Regions from separate parts of the Homo sapiens genome. Here regions 1, 3, 4, 5 and 6 are each reported to be linked to region 2. The links are microRNA targets in miRTarBase. Many come from high-throughput screens and were not tested one by one. Region 2 holds a microRNA gene; each other region holds the end of a gene's coding sequence. Distances are between the middles of the regions.
The links. Region 2 holds the annotated microRNA hsa-miR-615-3p (UCCGAGCCUGGGUCUCCCUCUU, at 3,381-3,402, shown strand). A microRNA usually pairs through its seed, bases 2 to 8, with sites in the 3' UTR of a target mRNA and lowers its output. Matches are read on the target gene's strand: a 7mer-m8 pairs with bases 2 to 8, a 7mer-A1 pairs with bases 2 to 7 and ends in A, and an 8mer does both.

Region 1: miRTarBase lists DENR as a target of hsa-miR-615-3p. The part of its 3' UTR that is shown has no 7-base or 8-base seed match.
Region 3: miRTarBase lists KLHL8 as a target of hsa-miR-615-3p. The part of its 3' UTR that is shown has no 7-base or 8-base seed match.
Region 4: the mRNA of ILF2 is a reported target of hsa-miR-615-3p. The part of its 3' UTR that is shown has no 7-base or 8-base seed match.
Region 5: the mRNA of KPNA6 is a reported target of hsa-miR-615-3p. The part of its 3' UTR that is shown has no 7-base or 8-base seed match.
Region 6: the mRNA of PDCD7 is a reported target of hsa-miR-615-3p. The part of its 3' UTR that is shown has no 7-base or 8-base seed match.

Annotation. Positions count from the first base shown.
Region 1 is chr12:122,768,558-122,772,557 of GRCh38, reverse strand. It overlaps DENR (density regulated re-initiation and release factor), which reads right to left. Exons shown (of 8, transcript NM_003677.5): 7 at 3,637-3,776; 8 at 1,494-3,524. The coding sequence ends at 3,480. Among named protein-coding and RNA genes, the nearest start is that of CCDC62, 4.0 kb to the left of the region's middle.
Region 2 is chr12:54,030,630-54,035,973 of GRCh38, forward strand. MIR615 (microRNA 615) reads left to right here and starts at 3,321; the gene lies at 3,321-3,416. It overlaps HOXC5 (homeobox C5), which reads left to right and starts at 2,421. Exons shown (of 2, transcript NM_018953.4): 1 at 2,421-2,947; 2 at 3,649-4,732. The coding sequence starts at 2,494. The coding sequence ends at 3,863. It overlaps HOXC6 (homeobox C6), which reads left to right. Exons shown (of 2, transcript NM_004503.4): 2 at 1-194. It also overlaps a transcript of HOXC4 not described here. RefSeq lists enhancers at 1,936-2,230, 2,225-3,376 and a silencer at 3,460-3,519.
Region 3 is chr4:87,158,779-87,163,880 of GRCh38, forward strand. KLHL8 (kelch like family member 8) reads right to left here. Exons shown (of 10, transcript NM_020803.5): 9 at 5,100-5,102; 10 at 1,325-4,864. The coding sequence ends at 4,741. Among named protein-coding and RNA genes, the nearest start is that of KLHL8, 59 kb to the right of the region's middle.
Region 4 is chr1:153,658,663-153,663,933 of GRCh38, forward strand. ILF2 (interleukin enhancer binding factor 2) reads right to left here. Exons shown (of 14, transcript NM_004515.4): 11 at 4,553-4,614; 12 at 4,357-4,471; 13 at 4,043-4,133; 14 at 3,126-3,894. The coding sequence ends at 3,734. It overlaps SNAPIN (SNAP associated protein), which reads left to right and starts at 41. Exons shown (of 4, transcript NM_012437.6): 1 at 41-224; 2 at 476-522; 3 at 786-904; 4 at 2,538-3,190. The coding sequence starts at 82. The coding sequence ends at 2,639.
Region 5 is chr1:32,169,609-32,174,952 of GRCh38, forward strand. It overlaps KPNA6 (karyopherin subunit alpha 6), which reads left to right. Exons shown (of 14, transcript NM_012316.5): 13 at 274-452; 14 at 1,099-5,344. The coding sequence ends at 1,286. Among named protein-coding and RNA genes, the nearest start is that of TXLNA, 7.4 kb to the right of the region's middle.
Region 6 is chr15:65,115,079-65,119,078 of GRCh38, forward strand. It overlaps PDCD7 (programmed cell death 7), which reads right to left. Exons shown (of 5, transcript NM_005707.2): 5 at 2,301-3,762. The coding sequence ends at 3,639. UBAP1L (ubiquitin associated protein 1 like) reads right to left here and starts at 122. Exons shown (of 6, transcript NM_001163692.2): 1 at 72-122.

The sequences.
Region 1 (4,000 bases), 69 Mb from region 2:
AGCAGTAGATGACTGCAGTAAGTTGGTGGTGATGAGATGTAAAGGAATGTGGGTTGAATGTCAATTTTTGAAGTGAGGAGTGTTTTAATTCACGTTTCTTAGGTTTCACCATTGTTAAGACTTGATATTTTTCTAGAAAGTCCTCGAGTGCCATTGTTCACCAGGCAACCATGTGTGACACTCAAGTAAAAATACATGTACAGGCTGGGTGTGGTGGTTCACACCTGTAATCCCAGCACTTTGGGAGGCTGAGGTGGGAGGATAGCTTGAGCTCAGGAGTTTGAGACCAGCCTGGACAACATAGGGAGACCCCCCATCTCTATAAAAAATTTAAAAATTAGCTGGGTATGGTGGCATGTGCCTGTGGTCTCAGCCACTCCAGAAGCTGAAGTGGGAGGATCACTTGAGGCTGGGAGATCAAGGCTGCAGTGAGCTGTGATCATGCCACTGCGTTCCAGCCTGGGCAACAGAGCGAGACTCTGTCTCAAAAATGAATAAAATTGTGTGTATCTAGAATAGTAAGAAATTAGGCTCATTTTGATTATGGTTCATAAATAGTAACTGAGTATAGTAAGAGGATTATGATGGCAAGGTACAAATTAAAAATCTCAAGTTTTTACCTTCGCTCCCCACAGGTTTTCATTAAAACAACAACAACAAAAAAAATTAAAGAGAATACATAACTTTAAAAATATGACAGAGGTGAAAGCTACAAGAATTACACTGCATCTGATTTTATACTCACACAGTCTAATCCAAACTGAAGTTCTGAATGAACTTTTCCCAGTCTCCCTATTTGATTTCCTAGGTAAAGGAATTTAGTAAATAATGAGAACAGGGAACTAAAAGGTAAAATTCATCTTTAAAACAGTAATTTATCAACTTTTAAACTAAGAGTGAGAAAGCTACCACAGACTGGCTTTTATGTAGTAATAAAAAGTTTAAAATCACTTACTGTCAGCATCTGTTTTTAAAAAATGAAATACTTACCAAACTATATGCAAAAAGTATTTGCATTAAAAGTTGCCAGCTTAATCATGGAAAATCTCTTATAAGGCTGCTTAAAGGTTCATGTTTTTTACTAAAAATGGTAGACTGTGAGAATGTGTAAAGTCAATTTTTGAACTACTAGTACTTTTTTTTTTTTTTTTTGGAGACCAGGTTTTACTGTTGCCCAGGCTGGAGTGCAGTGTCGTGATCTCAGTTCACTGCAGCCTCAACCTCCCAGGCTCAAGTGATCCTCCCAACTCAGCCTCCCAAGTAGCTGGGACTGCAGGCGCACGCCACCATGCCTGGCTAATTTTTGTATTTTTTATAGGGACAGGGTCTTGCCATGTTGCCCAGGCTAGTCTTGAACCTGGACTCAAGTGATCCTCCCACCTCGGCTGGGATTATAGCCATGCATCAAAGCAGCTTGGCCCTATTAGTACATTTTAATCAGAGATTAAACTATGTTGCATTTTAAATTTCAGTTTAAAAAAATGATTCACACGTTATACACAAGGACAATTTTAATCCTGCATTTTCCTGGAGTAACATCCACTGCTGGCTATCTATGGATTGTAACTGCATTTGCTAAGAACTGTGAACACAAAGAAACTTTACATGAAGTCACATGTTGATACAGGCACACAGACATCTTTCAGCAGCAACAGACTACATACATAACGCATACCAGATAGTCTCGATGGATAAATCTGCTTCACCAGTAATTCTATTTAGTAAAATCCACAGTTAATGGAGAATTCCATTTTTTAATTTTACATCTTTACTACACATTTTTCTAATACTTTATTTTTAAAAAACACTCATTCAAGATTGTAATTTGCATGGCGATAAACAAGGGTTCCATGGGTTCTAAGTTTCTTAAAAGTGTCCACAGCAACTTAAAACACCACAAGTCTTCTTTCCAATTTGCAGCACCTGACTTAAAGTTTAAATTCATCAAATACATCATTAAAACTGTCATTTTCTCTTGTGAGAAGACATGTTTCAATTGCTATTTCCAGGACTATATATTGAGCATGGGTGTACAGTACTTTTAACTGGTTAGCACAATTTTACTCACATAATTTATAGCCAGAATAAGAACCTCTAGCCTCTCTGAACGGCCTTCCACTCAGAGCAGATGATGACGATAAATGTCTAAAATGTATCTGGGGTACTCCACTTGACATTACCAAACATGCTTCCAAATAATCTTAGAAAATATGATTCTTTAAACATATGCATAATATTCTACCACACAATGCACCATCACTTCTTTAACCATTTCCCAATTGTTCATTTATAACATTTGCAATTTTTTATTATAAATAATATTGTGATGAATACTTTCATCCATAAGTTTTATGCAAGGCTGATTATTTCTTCTAATGTCTTCTAATGTCAAAGAAGTGGCTTACGGGTTCAAACAGCGCACATACATGGTTTTAAGGCTTTTAGTATACTTTACCAAATAATCTCCAGAATAGCTCAAACAACTCCTACCAACAGTTATGTTATTGTGCCCACAGGGTGGACTTCATAACAACACAGCAAATTCAACCACAGATCTATTAGATTCTCACCCATCTCAAAACTATCACATCAAAGAAGCAAGGAGACATATTACTGGTGAGGAAGCCAAATTCAAATTCTTTTAAAAAATCACTCAGCTTTAGATCAGTAAAATTATCAACAAAAATGCTCCCCACAAAAAGTCTACCGGGTTTTTCAAAAAATAAAGTTAAAAAGAGAGAAAGAGAAACTCAGGCTGGGTGCGGTGGCTCACATCTGTAATACCAGCACTTTGGGAGGCTGAGGTGGGCCAATCACGAGGTCAGGAGTTCGAGACCAGCCTGGCCAACATAGTGAAACCCCATCTCTACTAAAAATACAAAAATTAGCTGGGCGTGGTGGCGGGCGCCTGTAATCCCACCTACTTGGGAGGCTGAGGCAGGAGAATCACTTGAACCCGGGAGGCGGAGGTTGCAGTGAGCCGAGATCGCACCACTGCATTCCAGCCCAGGCAACAGTGCGAGACTCTGTCAAAAAAAAAAAAGAGAGAGAGAGAGAGAGAGAAAGTCAGTACCAAATGACCAAAATTTTTTATTTGACTAAATTCTATTCATGCATGAGCATGACAGTCTCCCGTTTATTTGACTTTGGCAATAAAAAAACAAGCAGCCTTGTACAGAACAGTGAAAATGCCAAGGACGAGGACAGTCTACAGTTTTACTGTAGAATATATATATATGTATACATATGTGTATATATGTATACATATATGTGTATATATGTATACATATATGTGTATGTATATATATATACATGTATACATACACACATGTATATATACATGTGTATATGTGTATACATACATATATGTGTATATATACATATATATGTGTATATATATATATATTTTAAAAGGCCTCTCTCCCTTTGGCCATATCAACTCTCAGTTCAGGCCATTAAATACAGACAAATTTTCAAATTCACTTCTTTACTTCTCCAAGATCTTCGATGCTGTCATCATCTACCTATAAAACACAAATAATTATATCTCATGAGTTGTGGTTGCAATTAAGAAAAAATGGAAGCAATTTGCTTTAAAAACTTATCTCTAGCGATGTATGTGTTCCATGCACTCACCTCTGGCCATTTTTCCTGAATGACATCAATTATGTCATCTGTAAAATCTCCCTGAATGATAATTTCATCCTCCCCTGTTACTGAGGCACCACAGGAGAATTTTTGAGCAAAAAATCTTTGTGCTTCTTTAAGATCAATTTCTATTTTTTTAAAAAAAGAAAGAGCAAGAACTGTAATTGGAATTGTGCAAAGATGTTTTTCCATTTTGAAATTTAATCTGCATTTTAAAATCATAAAACAGATTGTTAATGGGTTTTATATTCCTTTCAGAACAATACAAACTACCACAGAGATCTTAACAATGCAATTTACACTTTCAAGGTCAAATAAAGGCTCAATACATAAAAACAGAATCATCTATACT
Region 2 (5,344 bases):
CTATCCAATTTCAAAAAAGGAAAAAAAAGAGGGAAAATTACAAAAAGAGAGAAAAAAAGTGAATGACGTTTGTTTAGCCAGTAGGAGAAAATAAATAAATAAATAAATCCCTTCGTGTTACCCTCCTGTATAAATCCAACCTCTGGGTCCGTTCTCGAATATTTAATAAAACTGATATTATTTTTAAAACTTTATACCGGGAATTCTGTTAATTCGCTCGCCCGCCGGCCTCAGGGTGAGAGCTGGAGCAGGCTCCAAGCGCTCCCGCGCCTGCCGGCCCCCTGCAAGCCCCCAGCCCTCTGCACTCGCCTTCCCCGGAGCCCAGGCGCCCGGCCCCGGCCTTCTGTTCGTTCTCGCGATCGCACTGAGGGGCTGGGAGGCCTCTCTGGGCTCCCTGCGCGGAGCAACACACACACCCTGCGGGAAAAAGCCGCGTAGGATTTTGTTGCGGGGGGAGCTGGGATCAGTCGGTTTGGGCACCAACCCCACGCAGGCCTTTCTTCCTGCCTGTGGCAGCCGGTGTCCTCGGCGTCCGAACCCTGAGGCGCCCCGAAAGACCAGTAAAGAAGCACTATCCAGGCACCAGGGTCTCCTCCACCCACTCCCGGGAGTTGGAGGCGGGGGGCGCCGTGAGAGCAAGCCCCAGGCCCGCGCCAAGCTGGCTGTTGCGAAACGTAGCGGAGGCGGAGAGCGGAGGGAAAGAGAAGACCGCGGGACTGGAGCCCTGTCGGCAGGGATTGAGCGATTCAAGGACATCTCGAGAGAGAAAGCCTGGAAACTGAGCTCTCGCCTGCTCTGGTACTCCTGACGTGGCCGGGACAAAATTCCTTCTTCATTACAGCTCCAGCCGGGCTGGTTCCTTACTTTTCTCTCCTCAAACGGGTGAAGAGGCGGGTGAGGAGCGCAGCCGGACCCTAACCATTTATCAACCCTGGCCTTCTCTCTCCAAGCCTGGCCAGAGAAACCTGAGTGGGCCTACAGGGAGAGGTGTTGAGGAGGGTCTCCGGAGGGAAAAAATCCGCCAGAGTTTTCCGGGCCCTTCAGATTCCCTCCAGCGCCCCCACCCTCGCCTCCAGTGCCTCCACCAGTGAGGAGGGGGCCTTCTCCTGGCGGGGCGGAGATTTCCTGGGAAGAAGCAGGCAGGGAAGTATGAGACTTGGGGCTACGGGGGAAGAGGATGGGGCCGAATGGCTGCAGATACCCTGCGAAGGCTACCCAGGCGCCTGCCCTGCCCACCCCCCAGGTCCGCCCCATTCCTCTTGGTAGCTCAGAAATTGCTCTCTTGTGAACCTTATGGATTCAGGTCCCTGGAAAGCCTAGCCCAGAGACCTTTTCCCCAAAGGGCACATAACGGGCCTTTTCCTCTGCCATGCTCACGTAATATTTGTGGAGGCTTCAATCTTGCTTCTCCATGTCCTCAATTAACATCTATTTTCTGTCTAAAACCTCTGGCATAGGTACCACATAAGGATCGCACACAGGGAAACAGAGCAGTCCTCTAGACCATTGTCTGGCTCTGTCCGTGTCCACACACACACTTGAAAATTGCCTTGTTGCCACTCTGGGGACCCTAGCATGGTGAGGTCTAGCCAACTCCACCTGGCTCCTCACCTCCAGATCCATCCCAAACAGCCTGCAACACCCTCAGCTTCATGACCCCCCTATCTTGTTCTGACCACTCAGGATCCCTCCTCCTGGGCGTCCTGTCTACCTCTTCAGAAGCTAATTCTACTTTCTCTTGCTGATAGGCACCTCTTCAGCAGTAGTGGAGCCTTAGGGCCTGAGAGGCAAGGGACTTCTACCTTTGGTTTAGGGAACCTAAGTTAAACCCCATTGGTTCTCCAGCCTGGGCATAGGCCACCTTACCTAACTTAATCCCCTTTCCTCAGCCATTTTTGAAGATTGGAAGACCCTGGAGGTTGGGAGAACGGGACTTTCATTACAAAAAGCACTCTGTGCGTTATAAGTGGGGCCTCGTCTTTTCCCAATTTTAAATAGAATTTAAAAGGCTAGCTCAGGGGTTGCCCCAACAACCAGCTTCTCCTTCACAGTGTAGGAAATCCAGCCACCGGAAAGCAAGCTGGCGCTCCAGGATGCAATTCCCCCACATAGGCACCAGGTGTCGCTGTGGGCTTGTTGTCCCGGCTACCCCCAATTCCAAGAACCTTTTTTTTTTTTTCCCTCCCCCTTCCCTCTTTCTCTCTCTCACTCCCTCTCCCCCTTGGTTGGGCTTTGCCAACATATCGAGATGCTTTTCGCCGGCTTCCATCACTAACCTCCCGGAGGTCATCAAGCCAAATTTATGAGTGGCCGCTCGAGTCACGTGACTCTATTTAAGGCTCCCTTATTTGGGAAGAGCGCATAGGATAAAGAAAGAGATATCTCCACCTATAAATTGTCCACTTTGGAGAACAAAAAACCCCTCAACTTCAAAGAGTCACAAATCACCCTTAATCAAAAAGGGTGCAGAAATTTTTTTGGGCCCTCCCCGCCATGAGCTCCTACGTAGCCAATTCATTCTATAAGCAGAGCCCCAATATCCCTGCCTATAACATGCAAACTTGTGGGAACTATGGATCGGCCTCAGAGGTGCAGGCATCCAGGTACTGCTACGGCGGATTGGACTTAAGCATCACTTTCCCACCGCCTGCGCCTTCCAACTCTCTCCACGGGGTAGACATGGCTGCCAACCCCCGGGCTCACCCCGACCGCCCCGCCTGCAGCGCCGCGGCCGCTCCGGGACACGCTCCGGGCAGAGACGAAGCGGCTCCTCTGAACCCCGGGATGTACAGTCAGAAGGCGGCTCGCCCGGCGCTGGAGGAGCGAGCTAAGAGCAGTGGGGAGATCAAAGAGGAGCAGGCGCAGACAGGGCAGCCCGCCGGACTGAGCCAGCCACCGGCCCCGCCACAGATTTACCCGTGGATGACCAAACTGCACATGAGCCACGGTAAACTTTAGGACTTCATTTTGCGCTCTCGGGTCCGCCTGGGTTTTATAGGCCATGCGGGGCAAATAAAGAAAAAAAACCTGCGGCCATAAATTTTACGATCCAGGCATCAATGGCTCGTAAAACTGTCCACTAAAAGGCTTAGAGGCTGTGTGCGCCCAAATTTACGACGACATAATTGGATCATAGGAACAAAACGTGTATAAAAGGCAATATTCAATTTTTGGGGGAGAGGGAGGGAGTTAAAAAAATAGAGGGATCTGAAGGGTGAGGAGCGCGGGGCTCCAGAGCGGGGATCCCCCCGCGGCTCCCTCCCTCCCTCCCCTGCGGAGCCGGCTCCGCCGGCGCTTGCGGCTCCGGAGGATTCCAGCGACTCGGGAGGGGCGGGAGGGGGGTCCCCGGTGCTCGGATCTCGAGGGTGCTTATTGTTCGGTCCGAGCCTGGGTCTCCCTCTTCCCCCCAACCCCCCCTCAGCCCCTCCGGCTGCAGAGTGAAGGCTGCGGTGGAAAGTTTCCTGCCTGGGCGGAGGCGCCTCTCCCGGGGCTGGGCTGGGCTGGCCCGCCTGCGGCCCGCGTGGCCTGTCTTGCGGCTCTCGCCTCCTCTCCCTCCGGCCGCGGGTGGGGGCCTGGGCTGGGGTGGGGACGGGGGAACGCTGCAAGCTATTCACCCCTTCCTGGCTTGGGGTGGGGTTTATGTTCCAGAGACGGACGGCAAGCGGTCCCGAACCAGTTACACGCGCTACCAGACTCTGGAACTCGAGAAAGAATTCCACTTTAACCGCTACCTCACTCGCCGCAGGCGCATAGAGATCGCCAACAACTTGTGTCTCAATGAGAGACAGATCAAGATCTGGTTCCAGAACCGCAGGATGAAGTGGAAGAAAGATTCCAAAATGAAAAGCAAAGAGGCTCTTTAGAGGCAGCGGGGGAGGCCCGCAGAGCGCGCCCCTAGCCGGTTCCTGTCCCTGCGCCTTTCCTTTTCGCCTTTCCTCTCTATATTTCGGGTCGGGGGCAGGTGCTGGAGCACTGGGCTCCCGGGCCCCACAGACAAAAGCGCTTTTCCTTGGCATTCCGCATCCCTACCGACCCAGGGTTCCCGCGGGGCTGTCGGCGCTGCCCCATCTCCCCTCAGCTCGGCTCAGCTCGGTACCCGGGGCCCAGGGCAAGCTCCGCAGGACTTCCCCGGAGGGCTGCGGCGTACAGGCTGGCGCAGAACGAACCTTGGCCTGGGCCGTATCTCCGGCTCCCAGCCTCAGCGCGGCCCTCCCGAGTTAAGGTGGGCCCGGCCCGCGCCACAGGACCCTCGCCGGACCCTCTAACCTCGCCCTCTCCTTTGTTCCCGGCTGGACGGGTTAGACAGCCAAAGGCTGGCGAGAGTCTGGCCCTAGACTCGGGGTGCTTCCTTGTAGCGACTAAACTAGATTTTCACTTATGAATGATTTGCATATGAAAGGAGAGCATCGGCCTAGGGCCCCCACAGTTGCTCTATGCTTTCCAAACCTTATCTCCACAACCTCTTCCCCCCAAAACCCGGGAACCTCCCCAGCCTGCGCCTGCTGCATGCCCTCTCAGGCCGGCAGCCCCAGCCTGCTAGCTAGCTCAACTAGTGGGGTTTCCTGGCACTGGACCCCAGCAAGTGGTCCTAGAGGCCCTTTGCTGTCCCATAGTCCCTGCCACGAATTTCTGTGCCCTCCTGACCCATTGCTGTTGTCCAACTATTTATTGACTCTGGGTCCTTCCTGAAACTATATTTTGTCATATCAAATAAAGAGAGAACAGGACTAAAGATGCAGTGGCTCCTGTCTGTTTGGGGCATGTATTGGGTAAAATTGTCTAAATGGGCTGTGAGATGTAGAAGGAGACCCACAAACTTTAAGCCACCCCTTTAAAAAATTTTCTAGCTTCTAGGGGCAGTGAGTAGAGGGAGGTGAAATTGAGCTCCTTTCCTGTTCCTTGGCTGCAACAAGAGCCTCTGGGGGAAGAGAAGGGCACCTAGGCCTCGAGTACTGGCTTTTCCCATGCTGTGGCTGTCCAAGGCCTTCACGCCTCTGCACTCCAGGAGGCCTCTGGACTGGCAGCAGCCCCCACTGTGTGCCAAAGCTGCGGTGCAGGAACCAGTGGCTCCACCGTGCTCAGCCTTAGGACCTTCTGGGCCTCTGAAGATCTTTCCTGGGCCTAGGTGGTCCCTGAGAGGCCTTGCTGGACATAGAGGGAGGGCTGAGCCCTCACTCTAGGGACCCATTTGGTCTCATAAGGGCCTCTAGAGGGAGGTGGTATTGCTTGGTAAGGGGGTGTTGGGAGAGTTGGAGGAGGTGTGCCTCAGTATCTAAGATACTGGGGAAGAGGGAGCAGGGAGGACAATCTGCAGTGTGTATCAGCCTGGCAGGAAATGTTCAGA
Region 3 (5,102 bases), not on the chromosome of region 2:
AAAATAAAATAAAATAAAATAAAAAGAGACTGAGGCAGAAGAATCACTTGAACCCAGGAGGAGGAGGTTGCAGTGAGCCGAGATCATGCTGCTGCCCTCCAGCCTGGGCAACAGAGTGAGACTCTATCTCAAAAAACAACAACAACAACAACAACAACAACAACAAAAGAGAAATGTAGTGACCAGAAATACTTTCATACTGCTAAGAAGAGACTACAAAAAAAGGAAATGATCTTTTCTTAATGTATGCATACTGTATTACCTAGTGAATGCAGAAGTATGTATAACTGATATAGGTGGAGCAGTTGAGTTTTTTAGTCACAAAGAATATTAGTCAATCACTAACTTAGTTGTGATCTTCAACTAGTTATTTAATGTCTTTGAATCTATTTTCTTTTTAACTTTTGAACCTTTTTTTTAACGGTGAAGTATCAAATTACTGTAAAGATGAGAAATGTTATTAAGTGACTGGTACAGGCGATACATTTTTTTAAATGATAGCTAATACTCCCCATAACTATTACTCATATCTAAGAAACCCCTTATATTCTACTGAACTTAGCCTCAAACCACTAAGATAATGGAAGAGTGACTTGTTAAAAACAACAAAAAACGCACCAGAATTTCTGCATTCAAATAAGGTTGCCTCTCAAAGAGACTATACACTTCTTTCACTGACCTTGCCATTGCTCAGGATTTTAGAAATATTTCATTCAAACTGTTTAGTGTTGAAAACATTTTTACCAGTAGATGAAAAACCTCACTTCTTTGAAAGTAGATTTTACCTATGAAAATAGACATGAAATATTTTCAATCATGTTTGATGAATAATCAAGTTAAGATTTTGGTCAAGATTAACATATGACTATGATGAGACTAATTCTTTTGAGTGACTTACAAATGATCTCTTCAGGCTATTTTCAAAGATGAGTTTCAAAAGAAGTTTTAGCAATGGCAACCTTAATTTTTTTAAAAAGCTACAACTTTGCAAGGTTTCTACTTGGAAGGACAACAGTCATCCTAATGCATAGTCTCATTTCTATATAGTACAAGTCTGCAATTACTGAAGAGACAACTGCTTAAGATCAGTGAAACTACTTACATCAGTTACCTTCAACCTTTAATTTTCATAAGGGAAAACGAAAAGCTTTCTAAAATTTTCAGTTAAACATAAAGATCCTTCATATAAGGAGAAAAATATAGCCAACCTACTCAATTTTGTATTTGAGGAATGGAGAATAAACAATTACACAGTTTTGACAGGATCCCATAACAGCAATCAAATAATGATGAGAAGCAGTTACACAGACCTTTTAGAGAGAAGTTTGTGCTAATAGAAATATGCAATGTATTTTAATTAAATAAATAGCACTGATGTGACCCCAACTTTTTGATATCCATAGTTGGTGATATATATGACCACTTATTACATTGATTTTCTGGAGTATTATAACACAAATTTATAAATGGTTTTAAGAAAATATTATAGAGAAGTTTTACTGACACTTGGAATTTTACATGAAGGGGAAAGAGACATAGCCAATGGCATCCCAGTAATAATTTCTTTACACATCTGATACGAGAAACCACAGAAACATTCTTAACTGATACAACATGAATTAGATTCTAAAGGCATTCTTTAAGACATAGAGAAAAAAGAAACAAAGAAAATTCTCAAGTTTACCATTTACAAGAATAGTTTATGCAATTTCAAGAAGTCCTTACCAAGGCATTCAACAGCACTGTAAGTTCAAAGTTCATTTGGGAATTAAAAGAATGAATAAAATACTCCTTAGAGGGAGTACAAAGTTTATTCAAACATTTTAGAAATAATCAATTAATTACATAAGTATATAGTGAAATCTGTCAAAAACAATGTCAAGTAACTTGTTTTTAAAGTGGCAACGCAATATAGTAAAGCAATGGCTTTAATGACTAAATGAAAGAATCACAAAGCACCTAGAAATATTTATTGAAGAAATAATAAACAAATTTTCATGATTTATTTTGTCCATTTGCAATTTCAGTATTTTAGCTCTATCTCATATCATTTTTTGGTAGGTGCTGTTAACATATGAGGTTAAAGTGGTAAGTCTCACAATAAAGTAGCCATCTTCTTTGAATATTTCATCTCTTCATTTCTATGAATATAATCATCTTTCAGCTGCATGATTCCTTCAGCCTGATTCTCATTTCATGTCTCAATAAACGTGTTTTTGCCTGATAAAGAGAACTGTGCACATATTGATTCTGCTTTTTTATCTTTTTTTTTTTTTTTTTTTTGAGATGGAGTTTCACTCTTGTTTCACCGCTGGAGTGCGATGGCTCAACCTCGGCTCATTGCAACCTCCACCTCCTGGGTTCAAGCAATTCTCCTGCCTCAGCCTCCTGAGTAGCTGGAATTACAGGTATGCGCCACCACGCCTGGCTAATTTTTGTACTTTTAGTAGAGACAGGGTTTCACCATGTTGGTCAGGCTGGTCTTGAACACCTGATCTCAGGTGGTCCACCCACCTCGGCCTCCCAAAGTGCTGGGATCACAGGCGTGAGCCACCATGCCTGGCCTATTTATCTTTTCATACTGCTGTCAGGTCCTTCAAGGCTATGCTTCTGATTGCCCACACACTTTACTTCTGAGTATTTCATATTTTACGGGTAGGTAGGGTACCAACTTAGTATGTTAGATAACCATTGTATAGTAAAAACCAGAAATGAAAATATAATAACCCTTATAACTCCTTACATATAAGAAAGACAGAAATACATCAAAGAAAAAACATTTTAAATAATCTCAGGAAACAATAACAAGATCCTCTCCCCGAAAATAAATATAACAAACATATTAGTAACCATAGCTAAACAAACACTGTAATATAAGAACTCCATTAGACATAAGAAATAGACATTGAAGCCAGGTTTTGACACTTATTCTCCACATCCAGCCAGTTGTCACCAGTCTAGTAAGTGCTACAGGGTTAACTGCCTCTGGACTGACTGAAATATGGTTGTACTTACACAAAAGAACACTGGTTCAGATCCAGCAATGACTTATGAACTTGCCCATAGGTAGAAAAAAATAGCTTACTGGATTTATATCTGCTTCATAAGAGACTTTTATCTGCCAGCCTGACCCCTCTTAAAACTTTTTTTTTTCTTTTTTGGTTTGATATACTCAATAGGCACTGGCTTTTTTTTGTGATGTGGCTTTTTTTGTGATGTGGCTTTCCACACTATTGTAGAAGTCCAGAATCCCATTTAATAAGATGCATGAGCTATTAGTCAATGAACTTTAGGGCTGGATGGATCAACGAAGTGTTTTTCACTGCCCCAGCTTCCTTATGAACCAGATTACTGACCAGCGGTGAACTACAATAAATTCGAAGACACAACTAACAAAAACTTAGGAAGGCCTGGAAGAGAGGTGCCAAACTGCACTGCAAATACAAAATAAAATATTTTCATGTTCTTGATAAATATTTATAAAAAAATATACATATAATGAATAGGCCATTTTATAATGCTAGTTAAAACTTTGAAGAGCTGTTAAATCTGTAGGTCCATCAATATCCTGGCTTCAAATCAATATGTAGAAATATTTTTAATTAAATTTCAATAAATACACCAGAGGGATTTAAATATGATAAAAACAGTAATTTCAATCTCTGTTTTTACCAACAATATGTTTAATTAGTTCGTGATGGGCTTGAACTAATCAATAAACTACAGTCTACAAAAAGGTTTTTGTAAAAATGCATTCATTTCTGATAATAAATAAATGCAGATTGATTCTGTACAGTCAGAAAAACCAGGATGGTGGCAAATAGCAAAATAGAGAGATGATAAATCTTGGATCCAAAATCAAATGATCAAAGAAGACAGTTAAAGATATTTTCAGACTGCCCACATTAGAGTCATGTAATCTGCATCATTCTTTCTCAAGGTCTCTCAATTGGGCACCAGAATAACATCAGATCTAAAACCTTGTTCAATATTTCCTCTGGTTCACCTTTTGATTATGTAACAAATACTTTTTGCAAAAGATGAAAAAATAAAACTGTAAAATCATTTGGATGGAGTTAGCCCAGCTAGGTCTTTTGGTGTCCTAGCAATTCAAACTGAAATTAAAGGCTTCTTATAGCCTATAAGCTTCTGAAAATGCAGCTAAGTGGCATTCAAAAAGACAGAACATTTTTTCTACTTCCGTAAATATAAAAGAAATTGAAAAATCACCACCTAGAAAAAAAAAGCTAGGCATAAATTCATCAGCACCAAGTAGAAATGATCTTCAAAAGGGGCAAGTCTCTTATGTATCCTTGTGTTAATGAATAGGTACTAATCTCTCCTCTAGGAAAAACCCACTGCCTGACGTTAACATCTTTAGGCAAAAGAAAAGGCAAAACTCAACAAATTACATTTTGATTCATCCAAATAGAGAGAGAGAGAGAGATTTCAAGATTTTTGGCACTACTTTAAGCATTTTTCAGGGTAGGTATGATTTTAAGTTCGACTATCTTCTTCCCTACTCCATTATTTGCAAAAGCAGGAAGTATCAAATTTAACTCTATTACTAATAATTCTTCAGGTATCATTCCAAAAGTTGTACTTAGTCACAATACAACAGTTAACATTTAAATAAGACTCTAGTTGCAGTAAAAAGTGTTGAAAGGTGGTCATATCAAAATCTTGGTTTTCTTTTGTACCTATCAGATATGACTAAATTGTTGGTGGCCAGAACTCAAATCACATACAGTCAACCACATTATTGGATCCATGACCTACATCTCGAATTTGGCTAGTTAAACAGGAACACACAGCTACTCCTGCTCCAGCTCTGCAGTGAGACACAGATCCAACAAGCTCCCACCTGAAAAGACGGAGAAGAAAAAATGTTACAAAGCATAATTTACTTTACTCAAAATACTAACCAAAGACAAAAATTCCCTATGTGAGACTGGTTTTGTAGGACAGCAAGCTTCCAGTGGGAGATAAGATATCCCAAAGCTTAGTATTAACTACGACTAGCAACATTTTAACACTCTGAAGTAATCTACTATTATACCAGAAGATAATATAAAGCACGGAGACAACATGTAAATTACCTA
Region 4 (5,271 bases), not on the chromosome of region 2:
CCTCACGGGGCGGGGCAGTGCGGCGCGGCTCCGGTTCCCGGCGGCCCTCGCGGCAGGTTTCGGGCTTCAGGACAATTCGTGATGGCGGGGGCTGGTTCCGCCGCTGTATCGGGGGCAGGGACCCCGGTGGCGGGGCCCACAGGCCGCGACCTTTTCGCCGAAGGGCTGCTGGAGTTCCTGCGACCCGCTGTGCAGCAGCTCGACTCTCACGTACACGCCGTCAGGTGCCCGGGAGGGAAGTTGGGGGCGGGGCCTGTCTCTCTGGCTTTGTAGGGGCGGGGCCAAGAAAGTGTTCTGGCTGGGAGTGGGCATAAATTTAGGAAACTGATTCGAGGCGGGGAGGACAGGCGGGAAGGCCGCAGGTGGAGGGTTCAGCGGAGGCCGGCTTCTCTCAGTACTTGGTAAATACGTAGGGGAGTTCGTTTCCTGAGCTCCGGTAACTGCCTGACCTTGTAGGCCTTGTACCTCTTTGCAGAGAGAGCCAGGTAGAGCTCCGGGAACAAATTGACAACCTAGCCACAGGTGAGTGAGCATCCCTGTGTACCCGGAATTCTTCAGCCCACTTTCAGGACCTTAGGTTTTTGCCAACCCCTGGGCTGAGTTTCTGTCACTTGCTTCCAGGGCATCAGGGCTGCCAAAGGACTCCTCCTTTCAGGGATGTCTTAAATCTCTAATGGCTGTGGCCCGTTTGGGTGCAAGTGTTTTCCATCCCATTACCAGCCTGCTTTCCCTCAGAACAAGAGATAAGCCGTTAGATCTTAGCTGCACCTTACTTCCATCCCCAGAACTGTGCCGCATAAATGAGGATCAGAAGGTGGCCCTGGATCTTGACCCCTATGTTAAGAAGCTACTTAATGCCCGGCGACGCGTTGTCTTGGTTAACAACATTCTACAGAATGCTCAGGTAAAAGAATATCTTACCAACAGTGATTCTTTGCCCTTTTTTGTAAGTCCTCAACACAGTGAAAGCCACTGTAATTTTAAAATTCTTTGGGGAAAGGGAAATTCACTTCTCCCAGTACTTGAAAAATACCTAGGAAAATTCGTCTCATTCTCACTATTCAGTTGCTGCCATTTACATTCTTGTGTGTGTGTGTGTGACAGTCTCCCTCTGTCACCCAGGCTGGAGTGCGGTGGCTCAATCTCAGCTCGCTGCAACCTCCGCCCCCTGGGCTCAAGCAATTCTGCCTCCGCCTCCCGAGTAACTAGGACTACAAGCGTGCACAACGCCCAGCTAATTTTTGTATTTTTTTGTAGAAGTAGGGTTTCTCCATGTTGCCCAGGCTGGTCTGGAACTCCTGGGCTCAAGTGAGCTTCCCACCTTGGCCACCCGAAGTGCTGAGACTACAGGAGTGAACCACCACACCTGGCTATTTATTTTTATGATACAAGGTCTATCACCCAGGATGGAGTGCAGTGGCATGATAAAGGCTCACTGCAGCCTCTACCTCCCAGGCTCAAGCGATCCATCCACCTCAGCCTCCCAAGTAGCTGGGACTACAGGCATGCACCACCATGTCCAGCTAATTTTTGTATTTTTTCTAGAGACAGGGTTTCACCATGTTACCCAGGCTGGTCCCAAACTCCTGCATGCGAGTGATCCACCTGCCTGGGCCTCCCAAAACGCTGGGATTACAGGCGTGAGCCACTGCACCCGGCCTGCCTGGCCTTTTTTTTTTTTTTTTTAAATAAAAAGACAGGATCGGCTGGGCGCGGTGGCTCTTGCCTGTAATCCCAGCAGTTTGGGAGGCCGAGGTGGACAGGTCACCTGAGGTTGGGAGTTGGAGACCAGCCTGACCAACATAGAGAAACCCCGTCTCTACTAAAAATACAAAATTAGCTGGGCGTGGTAGCGCATGCCTGTAATCCCAGCTACTTGGGAGGCTGAGACAGAAGAATCACTTGAGCCCGGGGGACGGAGGTTGCGGTGAGCTGAGATCGCACCATTGCACTTCAGCCTGGGCAACAAGAGCGAAACTCCGTCTCGGGAAAAAAAAAAAAAAAAAAAAAAGACAGGCTATCACTATGGTGCCCAGGCTGTTCTCAAACTGGGCTCAAGTGATCTTCCTGCCACTTCCTCCTAAATGGTGCTGGGATAGGCATGAGCACCATGCCTGGCCTACATTTTTTTTTTTTTTTGAGATGGAGTTCTCCCTCTGTCACCCAGGCTAGAGTGCAGTGGCACGATCTCATTTCATTGCAACCTCCACCTCCCGGTTTCAAGCGATTCTCCTGCCTCAGATTACAAGCACCCGCCACCATGCCCAGCTAATTTTTTTGTATTTTTTAGTAGAGACGGGTTTTACCATGTTGGTCAGGCTGGTCTTGAACTCCTGACCTCAGGTAATCCACCCGCCTCAGCCTCCCAAAGTGCTGGGATTACAAGTGTGAGCCACCATGCCCGGCCTACATTCTTATATATACTTTTGAAGACTGACTTTGAGGTAGATCACGCCCGGTATTTTTCAGCACCTAGTTCACTTACACTCTCAAGCCTTTCACAGTGGTTAAGATTCCAAACCTTCCTTGTCTTGTAGGAACGACTGAGACGGCTAAACCACAGTGTTGCCAAGGAAACAGCCCGCAGGAGAGCAATGCTGGATTCGGGAATTTACCCCCCTGGCTCCCCAGGCAAATAACAGATGAGCCTATGGACTCAGTAGCACAAGTACTGTTCCCCAGCTGCCTTGTTTCAACAGACATGCAAAGATCCTAGGAGACAGTCCCCATAGACCTTCAGACATTAAAAAGGGAGCCGTACAGTTTGTTTGAAGCACTTCGTCTTACCCATTTATGTAGGGGCCCCAGGAAACCTACACACAGCCAGAATGAGGTTCCCAAAGGACTTACATTAATTATGGCTCTTGCTTCCTTTCACAAATGAGCTGAGGCCTCTACTTTTTTTTTTAAGCTGCATACGTGAGGCTTACCTTCTTCAGGACTAGTTAACCAGAGGGGCTTCCTTTGTATGTTACATGCCTGGTTACATGGGCCTGGACAGCATGTCCTCTACCTGTGACTTCTCATTTTCCTGTTTACACTGGGGATTTGGAGGGGGCAGGCAAAGTCAAAGTGAATGACCTCTGTCCACCCACTTTTTTATTGCACTGGCTTGAATACAGTAGCAGTGTTGATAGAATCATTTTATTCAATAAATACTTAAAATGATATTCTAGTTTACTCTGGTATATGGAAAGGTTCCAGGAGTTTGTCCTTTAATTCAAAGACAGCTTCAAATTGTGATCTGAGTATTTATAATTAAATGACTCAATTATCATTTTCAACAAAAGAGTACACAAAGCCAAAAGCAAAAAAGGTTGCCACATGCAAAAAAACAAACAAACAAAAAACACCAACCAGAAAGACCAAGAGCCCTACTAGGAAGTACTTTAATAGTTTTTCTTAGAAAAAAAAATTTCCAGACACTTAACATTTCACAACATTTCAACAGCAAAGTATTAGTTGAGAGAGGGGTTTTCAGGAGTTGGAGATTATAGAATATTAGGAAGAAATGTTGGTATCCTCCATTATAGATGGATGGCATAGGTCACAAATGGGAGACTGGCAGCTAAGCCAATATCAAAACCCAGTGGAATGACACTTCTATGGAGTTTACTTTTCTTCCTGCTATCTTCCCTATCCCACGGAAATGTCTGTCACCATGTAAAGCCCAGTAGCAGGCAGCTTAGGCTCCAGTCTTCCCCCTTGGGTAGGAAAAGGAGTGAAGGGAATGTCACTCCTGAGTTTCCATGCTTTCTTCTTCCTCTCCTTGAGGTGGTTCTTCTGTATTCTCCTCTTCTTCCTCTCCTTCCTTCTTCTCTGGTGGCTTCTCATAAGCCTTTTCTGAAGGTGTTACTATCACTCCATCCCAGGTAGATATTTCAGAAGCAAGATCTAGGAAAGAGAAAAAGGTGATTTAGACGAGTAGCCCAGCATAAAAGTCATTACTTACACTGTGGAAATATTAAAGACATTTAAGTAGTGTACAGCTTCTCTGTACCAGATTACAATACAAAACCCCTGACCCACAGTGGTCACTCACAGCTGGCATCACCCTCCTGGCCAAGGATCTTCCTAAAGCCACCATGTGAGAGGATTCGGACGAGAGTCTGAGCTGTATAGCAGACCATGTCCTGAAGGAAAGCAAAGTGAGAGTAAGCAAGGAAAATCAAAGGACCTTATTTGAGTAATACCCTTCTGAAAACAGAGATTAAGACAGCTTTTTAAATCTCAGGACCAAAGTCTTTCAGAATCCCCAAATTCCTGACCCGTAAAGACCATATTCCGCTTTGCCTGCTGAGCAGCAGTATTCAAAAGAGTGGGGCAAAACAACTCAGTTCATATCTGTCCCAATACCTGCTGTTCTAGGGTCATGACTGTGTGTACTCTAAAGTTGCCACTCTCACAGGGGTCAGTGATACCCACTGAACCTGGCAGGAACAGTCCTGCAGCCAGAATCTGCAAGCAGCGCCTAGAACACAGGGAGGTATGAGGTATTAAAGGAATGCACAAAATAGTTTACAACCAACCCTAAACCCAAAGCATGCTGTACCTGTATGCAACGTTTAGGGCCAAAGGCTGTCTGGTGGGGTTGTTCATCACAGCATAATGGCCCTGAAAAATAATAAATCCAGTAGGTGTGCCATCAAAATGGCACTTCTGATAACTAGAACTTTATTTTTTAGAGACAGGGCCTCACTTTGTCATCCAGGCTGGAGTGCAGTGGCGCAATCATAGTTCACTGTAACCGCGAACTCCTGGGCTCAAGCAACCCTCCTGACTCAGCCTCCTGAGAAGCTAGGACTATAAGTTCAAGCCACTACAACTGGCTAATTTTTTTTTTTTTCTCTTGTAGAGACAGAGTCTCGCTATTTTGCCCAGGCTGGTCTCAAACTCCTGGCTTCAAGTGATCCTCTGGCCTCAGCCTCCCAAAGTGCTGGGATTACAGGCATCAAACTAAAACCTTAAATGATCACGAGGAAAACTGGTCATTAAGGTCTAAGTCTAGCCAAAATTTTCATGTTCAGAAGCAATTCTGAAATGGCTGCTCACTCATTTCTCTCTACTACCATGATTAAATGGTAGCAGTCATGAGAAGAAAACGGGACACTATAACTCAGTAACTACTCATTTCATTGAATATACAAAAAAAAAAAAAAACTTTGAATTTTTTCTTTTTTTTTAAACAAATGTCTCTGAGTCATGTAAATGTTGAATTTTTATTGGATTACTTGTCTACCAATAAAATTTCTTTTAAGCTTCACCAAATTT
Region 5 (5,344 bases), not on the chromosome of region 2:
GCCAATTTTTTTTTTTTTTTTGTATTTTTTTTTAGTAGAGACGGGGTTTCACCATGTTAGCCAGGATGGTCGCGATCTCTTGACATTGTGATCCGCCCACCTCAGCCTCCCAAAGTGCTGGGATCACAGGTGTGAACCACCGCGCTCGGCCTCACAATTCTTAAAAATAAAAAAATAAATTAGTAAGAGTGGGTTGCTGAGAGTTCAGAGCACCTGCCCAGCACTTCATGTGTCCTGTACTAGTTTAGCACTTGCCTGGTCTCTGGCCCCTAGGTACCTGGTCTCACTGGGCTGCATCAAACCCCTATGTGACTTGCTGACTGTAATGGATTCGAAGATTGTGCAAGTGGCCCTCAATGGACTGGAGAACATCCTGCGGCTTGGAGAGCAAGAGGGCAAGCGCAGTGGCTCAGGGGTCAATCCTTATTGTGGCCTCATAGAGGAAGCCTATGGTATGTGCCCTCTCCTCAATCTAGGTCAGAACCTGAGACTGTAGGCCTCCAACGTGGTATACATATGTTGGTGGTGGCGGAGTGTGGGTTGGGAAGCATCCATAGCTTCCATGAGACTGATGTCTGTGTCTTCAGAACAGTTAAGAGCTCCTGCCCTAGCCAAGTTTCACCATCCACAGGGTTTCACACGTTACCATGAGTATAATCAGGATGTGCTGAGTAGCTGGGGTACAGCTAGGATTTGGATTTGGCTCATCTTTTGAGTTGAGAGTTGTCTCTCACCAGTTTCTTCTCCTTCTAAGGAGTGATAGGTCAGTTCTCTTTCTGATAGGCTGTACCTATAAGAGTGCTGGATTAACTCATCACTCATCCCTGAGAGGCTGATGATGTGCCCAGGTCATGCTTCTAGTTTAAAGCAGAATCAGGACTAGAACCTCTGTAACTGACATTTTGGTCTCTTTCCTTTGGGATTCTGTAGTTTTGAGAAGAAATCTTAACTCTCCCCTTTCAGGTCCAAGAGTGATCTGATCATATGACTTGTGTTTGTAAGCACTAACATACCTCAGGGAAGGAAAAATAGGTAAATGTTTCACCTGCCCATAGAAAAGCACTCACACTTCCCTCTCCTTCCTTCTTACTACTGTAGGCTTGGATAAAATTGAGTTTCTCCAGAGCCACGAGAACCAGGAGATCTACCAGAAGGCCTTCGACCTCATTGAGCACTACTTTGGTGTAGAAGACGATGATAGCAGCCTGGCTCCCCAAGTCGATGAAACGCAACAGCAGTTCATCTTCCAGCAGCCTGAGGCCCCCATGGAGGGCTTCCAGCTATAATATCTGCCTCCAGGGAGGGGAGGGGATGGGAAGCACCACCAGCCAGCGGAAGAGCAGCCCTCTGGTGGGCGGGAAACCAGTGTCCCCACCATCAGCCACCACACACCTCTGCTGCCCTGGAGACTGTGCTCTTGACCTGCTCCGCCCCCTTCCCTGGAGGGAGCACCCTCTGGACAGACAGAACCATCTGAGGCTCACCTTTGGGTTTTGTGACAAGAAGGGGACGTGTTGGGTTTTTCTTCCTTACACTATATTTTGGCTGCACACATGTCTTTAACCCAGGAGCCCAGGGGTAGACAAAGGAGGACTAAGGTAATCAATTTGCACCTTTTTTTATTTTTATTTTTTTTCTTTTTTTCTTCAGTGGTGACTTCCTTCCCTTTATCTTTTTTCATTCTTCCCGGTCCTCTGCCCTGATCTGTGTAACTCTTATCTTGGGTACTTGAGCAGACGGTATATTCCAGAGGTGGGAGGTGGGAGGGGAAGGGAGAAATCCAAAACAAAGTGTTCTTGCTCTGACAGAATATTAATCTTGTACGCTTGGATTGAGTTATTTAATTTTTTTTTCTTTTGCACATTTTTCTTGTATTAAGATTGCTCTTCCCAAGAGCCACAAGTTCCTGGTTTTAGTAAACCCAGCTGCCTGCATTGCCTGGGACTAGAGGCTGGGGAGGCTACCATGAAACAAAGGTCCCTCCCTCCCTCTGACTCTTTGCCCAGACCTCTTTAGTTTGGGGGATCCTCCTCACTCTCCTGAAGTGTCTCAAGTATACCAGTGGGAGTGCAGGGGAGGAGCACAGGCCTTCAGATGGGGCTTCCCACGTGTAGCTACTGATCCCATATTTCCTACTCACCTTCCAAATGGTGCGACCCAACTTCATTTGTTTACTTGAAAATTCCCCCTCGAGGTTGAGAGAACCTCTGAGGTGGCTGTATTTTCTCCTAAGCTTGAGATAGGGGGCTGTGGTCCTTCCTTTCTCCTGAGGAGAAAGTCCTTGCTCTGGTGACCTGTAAGTTGCAGAGGAGGGTGGAGTGAGAGTGTCATGTATTGGGATAGTCAGGGATCCCTGCCTTTGGCCTTTCTTCTTCTTCTTCTTCCTCTTCCATAGTTGGATCATGTATATTTTACTTCTAAAGGAGAGAATGTCAAAAAGTTCTGTATTTTTTTATATTCTATATATTAGGTAGGTCAATCTTAATTGGTCTCAAGAGGAAGAACTGTCTGTCATTTCGGTAAGTAGGATACTGTGAGGAAGACCAAAAAGAGATATGGATGCTTCCTCGCTCAGGAGGCCTGAGCTTGGTCCTTTTCCTCTCTGCTTGGATTCTGGACCACCACCTGGGACCAACCTTCAGCTCTGGAACCTTCATAAAGCAGGTCAGCGTGGCCTGATTGTCCCAGGACCTGAAGGGAGCAAGGATGGCCTCAGGGCCTGGTGAAGTCTGCTACTCTGTCCTTACTGCTGAACATCCTGCTTGTATCAGGAAACTCAGAAGCAGTTTGCCTTGTCAAATTCAATCTCAATGGCCATTGTCCACATAACTGATCACCCATGGCTGCCTCTCCTATTATCTATTATCACTGAAACTTAGTAGCCTGCTTTTTTTTTTTTTTTTTTTAGAGCTATTGCGTATCTTCCCTGTTTGGGATCCTTGTACCTGGTTTGGGTTTTCCCTTCCTTGTGACAATTATAATCCAGATGCCTCTTCTTTCTGTTTGAATTACGGTAGTGCATTGCCTTAGTGGCTTGCCTGTGCCTCTGGGTGGATTACATATGATAGTAAAGCCCACCTGTTTGGATGGGAGTAGAGGAAGTTGGTGTAGACCAGCTGTGGAGCTGAAGGCACAGTCTGCCCCACCCCCACCTCCCCACTGTGGTTAGTCAGAGGCATCCTGCTCCAAGCTCTGCTTTTCCTTCCTCTGAAACAATGCCATTCTTGCTTCTATTGCTACACATCTCCTTCTGGCTCAGGTGAAATCCATGCCCTTCTGCTTATAGACCTAAAGTTCAGGTACTTATTATTGGCCATTGATCTTGAATTTGCCCTCTCCTAGTGCTGCAGTCCCACTTCAAAGCCATTTTCTGAGGAGGATGGTTTAGGTCTGGCAATTGTCCTTGAAAAATCCCACCCATGTTGTACCACCTTGGTGAGTCATATGCCACTCATCAGCTTGGGAATGATGGCTGCCAACTCCCAATCTCCCAGGAAGGCAGGGGGCAGAATCTTTTTTTCACTTGGCCTGCTACCTCCATTAAAAAACCATTCTCTTACAGTTTAAAAAAAAAAAAAAAAAAAAAGCCTTCCCCTACCCAACCTCCGCCCATTGTTCTCTTCCAAAGGGCAATTTAGTAGGATCTACTTTGTACATCTCAAGTAAGAGTTAAGTCCCTGATACAGGGACCAGTTTCTTAGTGTAAGACATACACATCCTGCTTGTCCAGCTGTTCCTCCAAAATCTACTTTGGCTTCAGCTCCGGGTCCTGTACCAGATGGAAAATGTTTTTGGTGATCTGGCTGCTGCTTAAAGCCAGTTTTCCCTAAGAACTCCAAAGGCTAAAGTCTACTAGGGGCAGAGTGTGAGGATAGATTTCTAATCAGAGAAAAGTGGCCTCCAGGAGCTTTCATTTATGTCTTCTCCAGACCAGGTTTTCCTGTTATCTTCCTTTAATCCCCTTTCAACCAACAGGTGAAGTTCTTCCAGCCCACAGAGGTAGTAATATCATCTTTTCTATCTCCTCCTCTCCTTTGGCCATGTAATGAAGCAAAATATTATTTATTTAGCCCAGGCTTGAGAGCCACTGTTTGTGGACAGTCTTCATCTAGATTCCATACCCTGGCCTAGGCGAGGTAAGGCTCTCTGGTTATTGCCAGGATGGAGCCCCTCTACCCCAGTCTGCTGTAGGGAATACCCTAATTAGTTGAGGCATGCTTTTGGAATCCTGGCATGTTGGCATATGGCTGGTCTATCCTTTTTAAGATCTCTGGTTGGGGGTATCTGGATATGGATTAGGAGGGACAAGGAGCCTTTTTCTTGGCTAATGTTTTCCAATACTTTTTTGAATGGTGCCAGCCCCTCCAGGCATCCCACCCCCAAATCATCATCTTTAGTACTAACAGGGTGTCTGGTCTTAGAAGCCTCCCTTCAGATCCCAGCTGACCCTGGTGACTGCCTGGCCTTGATGTTGGCTGCAGCCTTCTGATAGAACCACATGGATTCCACCCACAGCTGGCCAGGCTTGTTACATGGGTCAGGGAATACAAATGGCCCCCCCCCAGGGAGCAGGTGTTGGCCTCAGTTTTCAGGGACCCTTGGTGTTGCTCCTTACCTAGAGCCCATTAATCTACCCCATCAACTCTCTGCCATGAAAGCCATCTTCCAGGAGCCCTGTTTTTTGGAGCTGAACTGCACAGATTATAGCTGCTATTGTACTTAAATAAGGGAGAGGAAAAGAAGGTTCTCAGGCACAGACTTTCTATTTTTCTCAAGCCAAACCAGTTTAAAATGTCTAGCAGAATGAACTGTATTTCCATTTCTTCATGTCTACCTGCCTTCCCCCCACACCCTAAAGTTGTACTTGTTTCTAGCAAACTAGAAGGAAAAGATAGGAAAGCCTGGCACTACTAACCTCACCTCTCATACACCTCTTTGAAGGCCCCAGCTCTTTTGTTCAGGCCTCTCTTCTCCCCTAGACTCACTCAGCTTGGTATCCATCATCTTGAGCATTCTTCAGTAGATTCATCTAGGGTTCAGATTCCAGACTCTCAGCTGAAGACAGGGAGCCAATTTCCCCCAGGTCCCTGCAGGTAATCCAGGGACCCCATAGGGAGAACAGGCTGACTGGGGCATTAGGAATGTTTGTACCTCTCTGCTTCCCTGGCAGCCTGGGGAAGGGTGCAGGGCTCAGTGCGCTAAACCATGGTAAACATCTTCAATAGAACTACCCTAGAATTTAGTGAGTGTGAGACTGAGATATTGCTCAGAATAAATTTATTCCATAGCCATTTAGGATTGCATGTTCTGGACCAACCTTGTCCAGTATGTTTTCTGTTTGAGC
Region 6 (4,000 bases), not on the chromosome of region 2:
AATGTTCACATTCCTTTCATATATTGCATATTATACTTATTTAAATGGAATAAGATATACTTTGTACTTACCTTGTAATTACCAGGAGAACTTCCCTGCAGACAAAGCGTGTATAAATGAATAGCTACAACAGATGGCATAAGCCTAAGCTTCTTGTTACAAATGTCACATGGGCATAGGAGCATGAATGGTTTTATAGAGTGATTAAGTTGGTTGGCTTGTAGCAGCAAATTCTTTGACATCATAAACTCAGCCACTTGGGCTAAATACCCTTAGTATTTAAGAACTAATCTCTTTCTCTCATAGCTTTCTAATCTCTGTATTTACCGAATTTATTAAAAACAAATGCTTTTGTACAGTTTTTCTTTTTAAAAGTATTCCAGTTAATAATTGAAGAATGACAGAATTAAACTATCACTATTTTTGAGTCCCCTCCCCATCAATGAATGAATCTGGGTCTTATCAGTGGCCGCTAACATCACAAAAAAAGCCAAGACATCAGTGCCTCCTGACTGGAAGTACACATTATGTCTGTGAAGTATTCCTGCCAGAAAATTCCAATCTGAATGTGATCAAGCCTCTAGATCAGCACTATCCAATTGAAACGTGATCCACATATGTAATTGCACATCTCAACTCAAATAGATCACATTTCAAGTGCTCAACAGCTGAATGTGGCTACTATATTGGACAGTACAGCTCTGTTTAACTACTAAATTATAGGACATACGAGAACAGAGGGACATGGCATCACAAGGATGCAAACAACAGTGTATGGAGTCTATTCAGATCCTAATTTGAACAAAACGTAAAACATTTACGAGAGGGCAATTTGAACAATGATTGGATATTTGTGATATTCAGGAGTTGTTACTCCTTTATTTAGATGTGATAATGGCCCTGTAGTTAGATTTTTTTTTTAATCACTTAAAGCTACATAATGAAATATTTACAGATGAAGTAATTTGATGCCTGAGATTTGCTTCAAAATAATCCAGGGTGAGTGGAGGATGTATAGATGAAACAAGATTGGCCATAAGCTGATAATGATTTGAAGCTGGATGATGGGTACATGGAAAAAAATCATTGTACTATTCTCTTTACTTTTGAATGTATTTGAAATTTTCCCCAAGTTAAAAAAAGAAAAAAAAAGACTGTGGGATAACATTACAATAACACTGCTCATATTCTTGAAAGTACAATTCATTAAAGATACTACCATGAGTCTCTCTAAACCTGAAAGAACCAGTGGCTACTGCCACCACCACTACACACAGGTAATAAACCAGGAAAATCTTACAAATAAAAACCGAACAAGAGTAATGCTCATGTTTTGTTTTGTTTTTTAATTTTCTTTGTTTTGAGACAGAGTCTCGCTCTATTGCCCAGGCTGGAGTGCAATGGTGTGATCTCAGCTCACTGCAACCTCCGCCTCCTGGCTTCAAGTGATTCTCCTGCCTCAGCCTCCCAAGTAGCTGGGATTACAGGCGCCTGCCACCATGCCTGACTAATTTTTGTATTTTTAGTATAGATGGGGTTTCACCATGTTGGCCAGGCAGGTCTTGAACTCCTGACCTCAAGTGATCCATCTACCTTGGTCTCCCAAAGTGCTGGGATTACAGGCGTGAGCCACCACACCCAGCCTGATCACTTTATTAAAACCTTGCAAGGGCCAAAGGAAAAAGGGATTTTTTTTTTCTCCATCTGTGGCTAAATGCCACCTTCTTGGGTTCTGCTGTCCGAGTTTTCCTGAGTCCCTGCAGCACATTCCCTGCCCTCACAGCAGATATCTTAGTGGCAAGGCTGTCCAGACACCAAACACACATCGTACAATTCACCTTATTTCTACTCTTCCTGCATCTCATCAGAGAGCAAATGGTGGAGATATCTAACAAAAAGGCACACAGGATTGTGGAGCTCTATGAGGGTAATCATATCAGATTTTAAGATTTATAAGCGTAGACATACATTTTGGAGACATGTGGCCCTCATTCCCTATCTGTTGACTCTATATAATGTATAAATTAATGCAAATTAAACAACAGAAAAGGGACAAAGCCATTAGTATCTTGCACCCAAAAGCTTCCAACTACAGTACGTAACATTATTTCCAAAATTGATGGTATCCTTACCAATCCAGACTTGGATTTTGCAGATAAAGTTTAGCATTTAAGATTCAAATTCCTGTAACAAATGCCTGCTTAATAAATTTGAATTTTTGAATGAAAATATGTTTCATCAATGTGAAAGTGTGTGTTAAGTGATTTGGAAGGCAACAAATTGGCAGCAAAGGCACAAACTAAAAAATAAAAATGATTTTTATTTAGTTTTTTGGAAATATAACAAAATAATTGGCAAAAACCAAACCAAAACAGAACCAAAAAAATGACATGTTATATGAGTGATCATCTCCAAGCACAACAGCATTTATTAATGAATATAAAAAATAAATTTTACTTTTTTTTTTTTTGAGACGGAGTCTTGCTCTGTCTCCCAGGCTGGAGTGCCGTGGCGCGATCTCGGCTCACTGCAAGCTCTGCCTCCTGGGTTTTACACCATTCTCCTGCCTCAGCCTCCCCAGTAGCTGGGACTACAGGTGTGCACCACCTACGCCCAGCTAATATTTTTTTGTATTTTTAGTAGAGACAGGGTTTCACCGTGTTAGCCAGGATGGCCTTGATCTCCTGACCTCGTGATCGGCCCGCCTCGGCCTCCCAAAGTGTTGGGATTACAGGCGTGAGCCACTGTGCCCGGCCAAATTTTACTATTTTTATTTGCTTTTTCCCCTAGATTTGACTACATGGATAGTTTTAGAAGCTTGAGTTCCTAAGATAATTCCATAGCTACACTGGCTCCTACAATGTGACTGAGTGAGGTTAGGGAAATATCCTTGGGGATTCTGAACAACTAGACCCTTAGAAACTTAAAAATAACAGGTGCTTTCATTAGGATCCTTCTAACATGGAAAAAATACAGCCATTGTCCATTAAAATACAATCCAATTTGGGTACTCTTCAGGTTTTCTAAGTTCTCCATCTGAATAATAAGACTAGGCCACCATCTTTTCTGGCAACCCAGCCTACAGCCACTGCCATCTTCCTAACTAGCAGCCTCCTAAGCTGCACTAAAACTGGGATTAACACAACTGAAGATAACATTTTTGACCTTTCTTCCTAGAAGTCAAAGGGCTCTTCAGGTAGGAAAGGTCAGGAGGTTTTGCATCAAGCTTGCCTTCACACTCACTATTAGTAGAAGGGCTGTGAAATCTACCCATCACACACCTGTATTCAGTGTTTGAGTGTACTTACCCATCAACACACAAGGAAGTTAGAGTAAATTAACAAGTCACTCTGGACCAAGCCCCTCAAAACAGAGGCAAATTTGGTGAACCAAGGTCATTCACTGCCTGTGGTAAAAACCTCAGTTCACCTAAGTCCTTTCCTGAAAAACCACATTAATCTGATTCAAGAGGCACCTCTGGCCAGCACAGAGCACAGAAGGAAAGCATAACTTCAGGGTAGGGGAATGCCACATGGAATTTAGAAGTTGCAGTTTAGTCTACAGCAAAAGATGGCACCATCGCTAATATTTACAGCTGGAAAGAGCGCTGGCTGGACCACACTCCTGGAGCATCTTTACTAATGCAGCTTAACAGCAGTTGCCCAGATGTCGTTGCTGGGGAGCGGGGGAAGGACCCATCCTTGGGGAACGAAGTTGCCTTTGGGATGATCGGATGGCACCAGGTACTGATCCCAATCATGCCTTAATAAGAACATTATAGAACAACTATTTATTTCTGTTTTATTCCAAATAAGATGTTCAGCAACTACATATTCTAAGACTTAGCTTTCAAATGACTGATATACTAATCTATTACAGAACTTGATTTCTAGGAATCAAGAAAATGACTATATTTCTTAAATGTACATATAAAAAGAGGAAAAACTCTGAAGAACTTAAACCTTATGGATAACCAAATAACAAATAAAGTCAATCCTCA